2 separate regions of the Homo sapiens genome follow, and region 1 is linked to region 2. The links come from fine-mapping of genetic effects on gene expression. A gene starts in region 2. The other region holds a variant in brackets. All regions are shown on one strand. Distances are between the middles of the regions.

The links. PIP is the estimated chance that this variant, and not a neighbour inherited with it, causes the effect. A credible set is the group of variants that fine-mapping cannot tell apart.
Region 1: its variant is the best candidate, but not a certain one, in a credible set for the expression of SAMD1 in blood mononuclear cells (TOPMed, PIP 0.51).

Annotation. Positions count from the first base shown.
Region 1 is chr19:14,145,826-14,149,825 of GRCh38, reverse strand. It overlaps ADGRL1 (adhesion G protein-coupled receptor L1), which reads left to right. Exons shown (of 23, transcript NM_014921.5): 23 at 1-2,083. The region is part of intron 1 of ADGRL1-AS1 (ADGRL1 antisense RNA 1); the gene reads right to left. Among named protein-coding and RNA genes, the nearest start is that of ADGRL1-AS1, 11 kb to the right of the region's middle. RefSeq lists an enhancer at 1,205-1,948. The variant A/G (reference allele first, on the strand shown) is at 2,363.
Region 2 is chr19:14,088,050-14,092,551 of GRCh38, reverse strand. It overlaps SAMD1 (sterile alpha motif domain containing 1), which reads left to right and starts at 1,801. Exons shown (of 5, transcript NM_138352.3): 1 at 1,801-2,767; 2 at 3,190-3,484; 3 at 3,576-3,672; 4 at 3,770-3,881; 5 at 3,977-4,502. The coding sequence starts at 2,132. The coding sequence ends at 4,135. PRKACA (protein kinase cAMP-activated catalytic subunit alpha) reads left to right here. Exons shown (of 10, transcript NM_002730.4): 10 at 1-864. RefSeq lists silencers at 1,066-1,395, 1,446-1,495, 1,636-1,855, 2,186-2,445, 2,746-2,795 and an enhancer at 3,440-3,949.

The DNA of each region.
Region 1 (4,000 bases), 58 kb before region 2:
AGCCAGGACTTCTCCGTGTACGTGCATCCCCAGTCCCCGCCGGGGCGGGCGGGCCGCCAGAGCAGCTTTTTACAATCCAGAGACAGAAAACAAAATCTAGATGCAACAGCGAAACAAAGAACCCATTTCCTTCCTGGCACCCTCCTTTCCTGCTCCGCCTGCCCGGCATCATCAGCCCTTCTGGGGCGTGTACCTCTCACTGCCTGCCCCAGGACCAGAGGCCTGTCTCCCCCTTCCCTCCCCACCGGCCCGGGGGAGACCTCTTCACACCCAAAGATGCTTTGTCAAGATGGCTGCGCTGTCCCTTTGAGTTCCTGCTTCTTGTATATTGCTCTGGGGACTCTCGCCGGGGAAGATGGGGCTGATTTCCCACCTAGAGAGGTTGATGGCAGAAGGAAAATGGGGAGGCACTGGGGTTGTGGAGGGCATGGGTATGGCTGAGGAGGGTGCTGGGAACGGCAAGGCGGTCTGGGGGATGGGGAGGGGCAAAGGTGAGAGATCACCTTCCCTATCCTCCACCTTCCCGCAGGGAAGACGAAGCCAGGTGCCAGGGCTGGGGTCGGGACACCCATGTTCTGGGCGGCTTGACCCCAAATCCCAGACCCCGGAAGCTCCAGGCTCGGGATGTGTCCTGAGCACCTGTCCCGGCCCCCTCCTCTCCAGCCTGTCAGGCCAGCCTCCCCAGCCCCCTTCCCTCAACTCTAGGGGCAGCATAGCCCCAGGCCACCCTAGCCCAGCCCCTGCATTGCCGTTTCCCCAGAGGTGGCCCCTCCACCTCTGCTCTGACCTCTCCCCATCTCTCTGCCCCTCCTTTTCTCACAAGTGCCATGAGTTTTCAAACATCTTCGGGTCTCAGCCTGCTGCTGCCATGAACTTTGTTGGGTTAAGGGGGAGGGGCTCTAGGAAGGAACTGGGGGGAAGGGGACAGGTAGGTGGCTGGAGGGACCCTTTTTGCTGCTAGAAAGCCCCTCCCTTCTCCCGGGGAGCTGGGGCTGGCTTGTCCCCATCAATTAGGGGAGAAGGGGTCAGACCAAAGATGGTGGTTTGTCCCGTGTAAGGGAACAGGTGTGGGGAAGAGGTGGGGTTGGGTTCCAACTCTGGCTTTTTCTGGTAGAAAGGCCTAACCCATTACACCAGAAGACCATGGGTGAAGTCTAGATGGGGAGGAGAAGTGAGGCCAGGGACAGTCTTGCCAGACGACTCTGAGGAGGGCAAGGGACAGTTCCATGGCCCTTCCCGGACTGCACTAGGCTGGGAGCTCTGTTGTGTGGAGGGGTGGTCAGAGGTCTGTGAAGAGCGGGCAGGAGGCATGAGCAGGCGAGGAGCTGGCCTGTCCCGGGAAGCAGCCCAGCCTGTGGCTGCCCCCGACACCAGGAGGAGGGCCAGGAGAGTTCCAGGGGGCTGAGGCACACAGAGAGGCCAACTTCCTCCCTGCCCAGCCTTCCTTGTATCTCTCCAGACTCGGACAATCAAAGGGAGAGAGGGTGTATCGGGTCCTGTTCCAGCCGGCATCGCCGGGTGGCTTCCAGGCCTCAGAGCTGTGTGGCAGGGCCCCCTGCTGGGGCTGGACATCACTGCAGTCCAGTGCAAAGCCGCCCCCAGAGCCCAGGTGTCCCCCCAACCTAACCAGACCTGGTGCCTTGACGCCCCCACCCCAGCTGGGACGGTACAGAGAAGGGTCTTGGTTTCCTCTCCTACTCCCTTCCTTAGGCTCCTGAACTCGTTTGCTCCTAAATCTTGTTAATTCTTTTTCTCTGGATTTTGGTTTCTTTTGGCTTTCCCTTGCCTTCCCCTTTCTCTGTCTCCAACACTCTTTCCCCATGTCTTTCTGGCTGTCTCTATGTTCCTCTTCTCTTATCCTCAACTTTCTGTCCATTCGGGCCTCCTCCCCACCTCCCACGCCCCAGCCCCTCCCTCCTTGGTCTCCTTTTCGATATGCCAAACCAATTTTGGGTCGAGTGCATTTAACGAGAACAAAACAAAAGGCTCATAACAACAAGAACGTTTCAGAAAAAAACAAAAAGTTTTAAAAAAATTGTTGAGTCAAAAAGTCAAACAATAAAGAAATTAAGATTTCTTGGAATGACAAGAGTGGTGTGACTTCTTGAGTGGGGGAGTAAGAAATGGGTGAATAGCTGGGCGCGGTGGCTCAGGCCTGTAATCCCAGCATTTTGGGAGGCCGAGGTGGGTGGATCACTTGAGGCCAGGAGTTTGAGACTAGCCTAGTCAACATGGTGAAACCCCATCTCTACTAAAAAGACAAAATTAGCTGGGCGTGGTGGCAAGCACCTGTGGTCCCAGCTACTTGGGAGGCTAAGGCAGGAGAATTGCTTGAACCCGGCTGGGAGGCAGAGGTTGCAGT[A/G]AGCCAAGATCGTACCACTGCACTCCAGCCTGGGCTATAGAGTGAAATTCTGTCTCAAAAAAGAAAGAAAGAAATGGTTGAGCAGATCTGCACAGGGGCGTCCCCATGGGCTCTGGTCTGCACTCGAGCATTCAGAACCCCTGGCAGAGGCTTGACAGTTATAGAATCATTCACGTTTATGAGACCTTGGTAAGTTCCTGGGCCTGGTGGAGCATTTCATGTGCAGTTTCTCTGAATCCTCACAAAATCCTCCCAGATGGAGACAGCGATTAGAGTTCCATTTTACAGATGGGGAAACTGAGGCTTACAGCCCTCAGATGCATGCCCAAGTCTCTCTGACCAGGCCACTGTTCCATGCTGTCTCACAGAAGCCCTTCTTGGCCCAGACGTCTGTCCCCAGGCTGTACTAGAGCAGAGCTCAGGAATTTTACACTGTGATGTCTCATTACAATTGCCATTCCTACACTCCCACACGCTACTGGCAGGGAGTGCTTTCAAACTTGACACACGGTGGAATTGCATCATGTGTATTTCACGTTGTCAGTTCACCAACGAACTGCCCATGCTCAGAGAGAGGCATAACTACTCAAACTACAAGGATCCTTTTCCGGGCCCCTCTGCCTTAAAAAGATACCTGTGTCTAGGACACCACCCACCTCCCCACAACAGCCACTCCTTCCCAGTCTTCATGGCTGGCTCCTTCTCATCTGACCTCCTAATGATGGGGAACCCAGGGGCTCAGTCCTTAGACCTTTTCTCTCACTCCCTGGAAGGTTTCACCCCATCTCATGGTTTGAAATGCCTCCGGGTGGGTGCAGTGGCTCATGCCTGTAATCCCAACACTTTGGGAGGCCGAGGCAGGCAGATCACGAGGTCAGGAGTTCGAGACCAGCCTGGCCAACAAGGTGAAATCCCGTCTCTACTAAAAACACAAAAATTAGCTGGGTGTGGTGGCGAGCGCCTGTAGTCCCAGCTGCTCAGGAGGCTGAGGCAGGAGAATCGCTGGAACCCAGGAGGCGGAGGTTGCAGTGAGCTGAGATCGCACCACTGCACTCCAGCCTGGGCGACTGAGACTCCATCAGAAGAAAGAAAAGAAAGAGAAGAGAAAGGAAAAGAGAAACGGAGAAAGAAAGAGAAAGGAAGGAAAGAAGAAAAAGAAAAGAAAGAAAAGGAAAGAAAGAGAAAGAGAGAGAGAGAGAGAAAGAAACGCTACCTATACACTGATCACCCCCAAACGTAGCTCTCCAGCCTGAACTCCTACCTGAGCTCCAGATTTACATATATTCACCTACCTACCCCATCTCTCTGCCTGGTATCTGGTAGGATCTCAAACTAACCTGTCCTAAACTGAGACCCTGGCCTCTCCCACCCCCATCTCTACCACTGCCACCACTGTAGTTCTTCCCACGTGAGGCTTTGAGGCTTCCTCACCTCAACTAAAAGTGAGTCCATCCATACCTTGATTCAAGCTAAAGACCTTGGAGCTTCTCTTGAACTCATCTTGTTTGATACCCCACATCTAATTTGACAGTAAATGCAATGGTGGCTCTAACTTCTAAATATCCAGAATTAATTAGTTCTCACCCATCTTTCACCAGAGCCACTACAACAGTCCCCTAAATATTATAGCTCGTTTGT
Region 2 (4,502 bases):
TAAGTTCCACCAGTGCCTCCCTCCCTCCTTCCTCTACTCCCACCCCTCCCATGTCCCCCCATTCCTCAAATCCATTTTAAAGAGAAGCAGACTGACTTTGGAAAGGGAGGCGCTGGGGTTTGAACCTCCCCGCTGCTAATCTCCCCTGGGCCCCTCCCCGGGGAATCCTCTCTGCCAATCCTGCGAGGGTCTAGGCCCCTTTAGGAAGCCTCCGCTCTCTTTTTCCCCAACAGACCTGTCTTCACCCTTGGGCTTTGAAAGCCAGACAAAGCAGCTGCCCCTCTCCCTGCCAAAGAGGAGTCATCCCCCAAAAAGACAGAGGGGGAGCCCCAAGCCCAAGTCTTTCCTCCCAGCAGCGTTTCCCCCCAACTCCTTAATTTTATTCTCCGCTAGATTTTAACGTCCAGCCTTCCCTCAGCTGAGTGGGGAGGGCATCCCTGCAAAAGGGAACAGAAGAGGCCAAGTCCCCCCAAGCCACGGCCCGGGGTTCAAGGCTAGAGCTGCTGGGGAGGGGCTGCCTGTTTTACTCACCCACCAGCTTCCGCCTCCCCCATCCTGGGCGCCCCTCCTCCAGCTTAGCTGTCAGCTGTCCATCACCTCTCCCCCACTTTCTCATTTGTGCTTTTTTCTCTCGTAATAGAAAAGTGGGGAGCCGCTGGGGAGCCACCCCATTCATCCCCGTATTTCCCCCTCTCATAACTTCTCCCCATCCCAGGAGGAGTTCTCAGGCCTGGGGTGGGGCCCCGGGTGGGTGCGGGGGCGATTCAACCTGTGTGCTGCGAAGGACGAGACTTCCTCTTGAACAGTGTGCTGTTGTAAACATATTTGAAAACTATTACCAATAAAGTTTTGTTTAAAAAAAAAGTGTCGCTGGTGTTCTCGACTTCGATCACCCACCCACACACCCCCAGGGGGTTGGAAAGGGAATTTCGGACCCCAGCGTGCAGGCCGATCAGGTCCTGGCTTGAAGTCCTTGTAACCAGGGTTTAGCTGAAATTCCGGCACTCCTTCGGCCCCGCAGGAGAAACGAGCGTCAAACTGCCCTTTGACCCCAGATTCGGGGTCCCCAAATCTGCGGCGCGCCCCCTCGGCGTCCAGCCCGGGACCGAGAGGGCGCTCTAGGGAGGCGCTGGGGCTGGCGCGCCAGGAGGCCGAGCGGCGGCGGGGGCGGCCCTGGCAGGGGGAGTAGAAGGGGGAGAGGGTGCGCGCCCCCCTTCCCGCATCCTCAGCGCCGGGCCAGGCGCGCCTGAGGGACGCGGGGGCGGCGGCAGCAGGAGGGTCCCCGCAGCACCCTGCGAGCGCGGCAGCCCCGGCCCGCGGGCGGCGAGTTCCCGGTAAGTGCGGTCCCGAGAGCGGAGCGCGCTGGAGAGGCGTGGAGAGGGGGGCTGGGCGCCGGGGACGTCTGGGTCCCGCGCCCAATGGCTGGAGGGCGGCCGAGCGCCGCCCGCCCGCCCTGCCCGCCCCCTCTCCACTCCCCCCGGCACTCCCCTCCCCCTCCCCCGCCCGCCGCTTTCCCCCGCCCCCGCCCCGGGCCAACTCCGCGGCGCCTCCTTAAAAAGCGCGCGGGAGTTGTAAGGGGGGGCCGGAGCGAGCCGGAGTGAGCGAGAGCGCAGGGTAAAGGGGGCGGGCGGGGGGCCCGGGCTCCACCTTAAAAGCGGGCGCGTGGGGGTGGGAGGGAGGAAGGCGGGCGGCGGGGAGGAGGGAGGGAGGGAAGGAAGGGGGGCCGGAGTGTCCCGGGCGCAGGGCGCGCGTGCGGCGGCGGCGGCGGCGGGGAGGGGCCGGCCGCGCCGCGCTCCCCTCCTCCCCCTCGCATCCCCGGCCCCGCGCGCGCCCAGCAGAAGCGGGTCTGTGTGTGCGTGCGTGCGAGTGAGTGAGTGTGTGCATATTTTTTTCTCTCTTTTCTTTCTCTCTCACTGTTTTTTCCTCTCTCTCTCTCTCCCTCTCTCTCTCTTTTTTTTTTTTTTTTTTTTGCAAAGAAACAGCAGCGCCGCCGCCGCTCCGCCGAGGCGCTGCGCCCCCCGGGGGGGGAGGCGGAGGAGGCGGGCAGCGGCGGAGGGAGGGGAGCCGGGGAGGGGGGCGCCGCGCTGGGAGGGAGGCAGCGCGCACGGTGCAGCCGGGCCGGGCGGGAGGCATGGCGGGGCCCCCGGCCCTACCCCCGCCGGAGACGGCGGCGGCCGCCACCACGGCGGCCGCCGCCTCGTCGTCCGCCGCTTCCCCGCACTACCAAGAGTGGATCCTGGACACCATCGACTCGCTGCGCTCGCGCAAGGCGCGGCCGGACCTGGAGCGCATCTGCCGGATGGTGCGGCGGCGGCACGGCCCGGAGCCGGAGCGCACGCGCGCCGAGCTCGAGAAACTGATCCAGCAGCGCGCCGTGCTCCGGGTCAGCTACAAGGGGAGCATCTCGTACCGCAACGCGGCGCGCGTCCAGCCGCCCCGGCGCGGAGCCACCCCGCCGGCCCCGCCGGCGCCGCCACAGCAGCAGCAGCCGCCGCCGCCGCAGCCACAGCCGCCGCCGGAGGGGGGCGCGGTGCGGGCCGGCGGCGCGGCGCGGCCCGTGAGCCTGCGGGAAGTCGTGCGCTACCTCGGGGGCAGCGGCGGCGCCGGCGGTCGCCTAACCCGCGGCCGCGTGCAGGGGCTGCTGGAGGAGGAGGCGGCGGCTCGAGGCCGTCTGGAGCGCACCCGTCTCGGAGCGCTTGCGCTGCCCCGCGGGGACAGGCCCGGACGGGCGCCGCCGGCCGCCAGCGCCCGCCCGTCTCGCAGCAAGGTGAGCGCGCCGGGGAGCGGGGGCGCCGCGCGGTGGGCAGGTGCGGGCGAAGTTGGTGGCGGGGGCGCGAGTCCCGGGAGGAACTGGGTGGCGGGTGGCTGGGGCTTTGCGCGCGTTTCCTGCGGGCTCGGTGCGTGGTGACCTTGGCAAGTGATTGAATCTCCCGGAGCCTCAGTTTCCTCCGCTGTAAACGCGGTTTAATAACAGTAGCGACCCCTTGGGGTTGTTGAGCGAGTTTAGTAAGATTTGGTTGTCGAGGGCTTTAGTTAACACAGAGCCTGGCACGGAGTGAATGCGTAAAAGTTAGTCCGTATTGTTCTTAAAGGTGGAATCGGTTCCTCCTCCCCACCGCCCGGACGCCACAGTCAGGGTCTGGGATTAGAACAGCTACTAATTTTGCATGCTTCTCTCCTCGGCTCCAGAGAGGTGGAGAAGAGCGAGTACTTGAGAAAGAAGAGGAAGAAGATGATGATGAAGATGAAGATGAAGAAGATGATGTGTCAGAGGGCTCTGAAGTGCCCGAGAGTGACCGTCCTGCAGGTGCCCAGCACCACCAGCTTAACGGCGAGCGGGGACCTCAGAGTGCCAAGGAGAGGGTCAAGGAGTGGACCCCCTGCGGACCGCACCAGGGCCAGGATGAAGGGCGGGGGCCAGCCCCGGGCAGCGGCACCCGCCAGGTGTTCTCCATGGCAGCCATGAACAAGGAAGGGGGAACAGGTAAGGATCCCTCTGGGTGGGGAAGAGTGCTAGGTGGAGAGGAACTCAGCCCGAAGACAAAGCCAAAGACAGGTGTTTTTTTCCTTCCCAGCTTCTGTTGCCACCGGGCCAGACTCCCCGTCCCCCGTGCCTTTGCCCCCAGGCAAACCAGCCCTACCTGGGGCCGACGGGACCCCCTTTGGCTGTCCGTAAGTTGGGGTATTGGAGACATGGGGGTGCTGCTCAGGTGTGTGGTACAGCCAGAGAGACATCCGTGTTCACTGGTGTCTGTTTGTTTTGATGCAGTCCCGGGCGCAAAGAGAAGCCATCTGATCCCGTCGAGTGGACCGTGATGGATGTCGTCGAATATTTTACTGAGGCTGGATTCCCGGAGCAGGCGACAGCTTTCCAAGAGCAGGTGAGTTTCCAGCCCAGGACTACACACTGACAGACACAGAGGGCCTCCCTGGGATGTGCCCTGATCCCGGCTCTCTCTGTTCCTGTCCCACCCAGGAAATTGATGGCAAATCTTTGCTGCTCATGCAGCGCACAGATGTGCTCACCGGCCTGTCCATCCGCCTCGGGCCAGCCCTGAAAATCTACGAGCACCACATCAAGGTGCTTCAGCAAGGCCACTTTGAGGATGATGACCCCGATGGCTTCTTAGGCTGAGCGCCCAGCCTCACCCCTGCCCCAGCCCATTCCGGCCCCCATCTCACCCAAGATCCCCCAGAGTCCAGGAGCTGGACGGGGACACCCTCAGCCCTCATAACAGATTCCAAGGAGAGGGCACCCTCTTGTCCTTATCTTTGCCCCTTGTGTCTGTCTCACACACATCTGCTCCTCAGCACGTCGGTGTGGGGAGGGGATTGCTCCTTAAACCCCAGGTGGCTGACCCTCCCCACCCAGTCCAGGACATTTTAGGAAAAAAAAAATGAAATGTGGGGGGCTTCTCATCTCCCCAAGATCCTCTTCCGTTCAGCCAGATGTTTCCTGTATAAATGTTTGGATCTGCCTGTTTATTTTGGTGGGTGGTCTT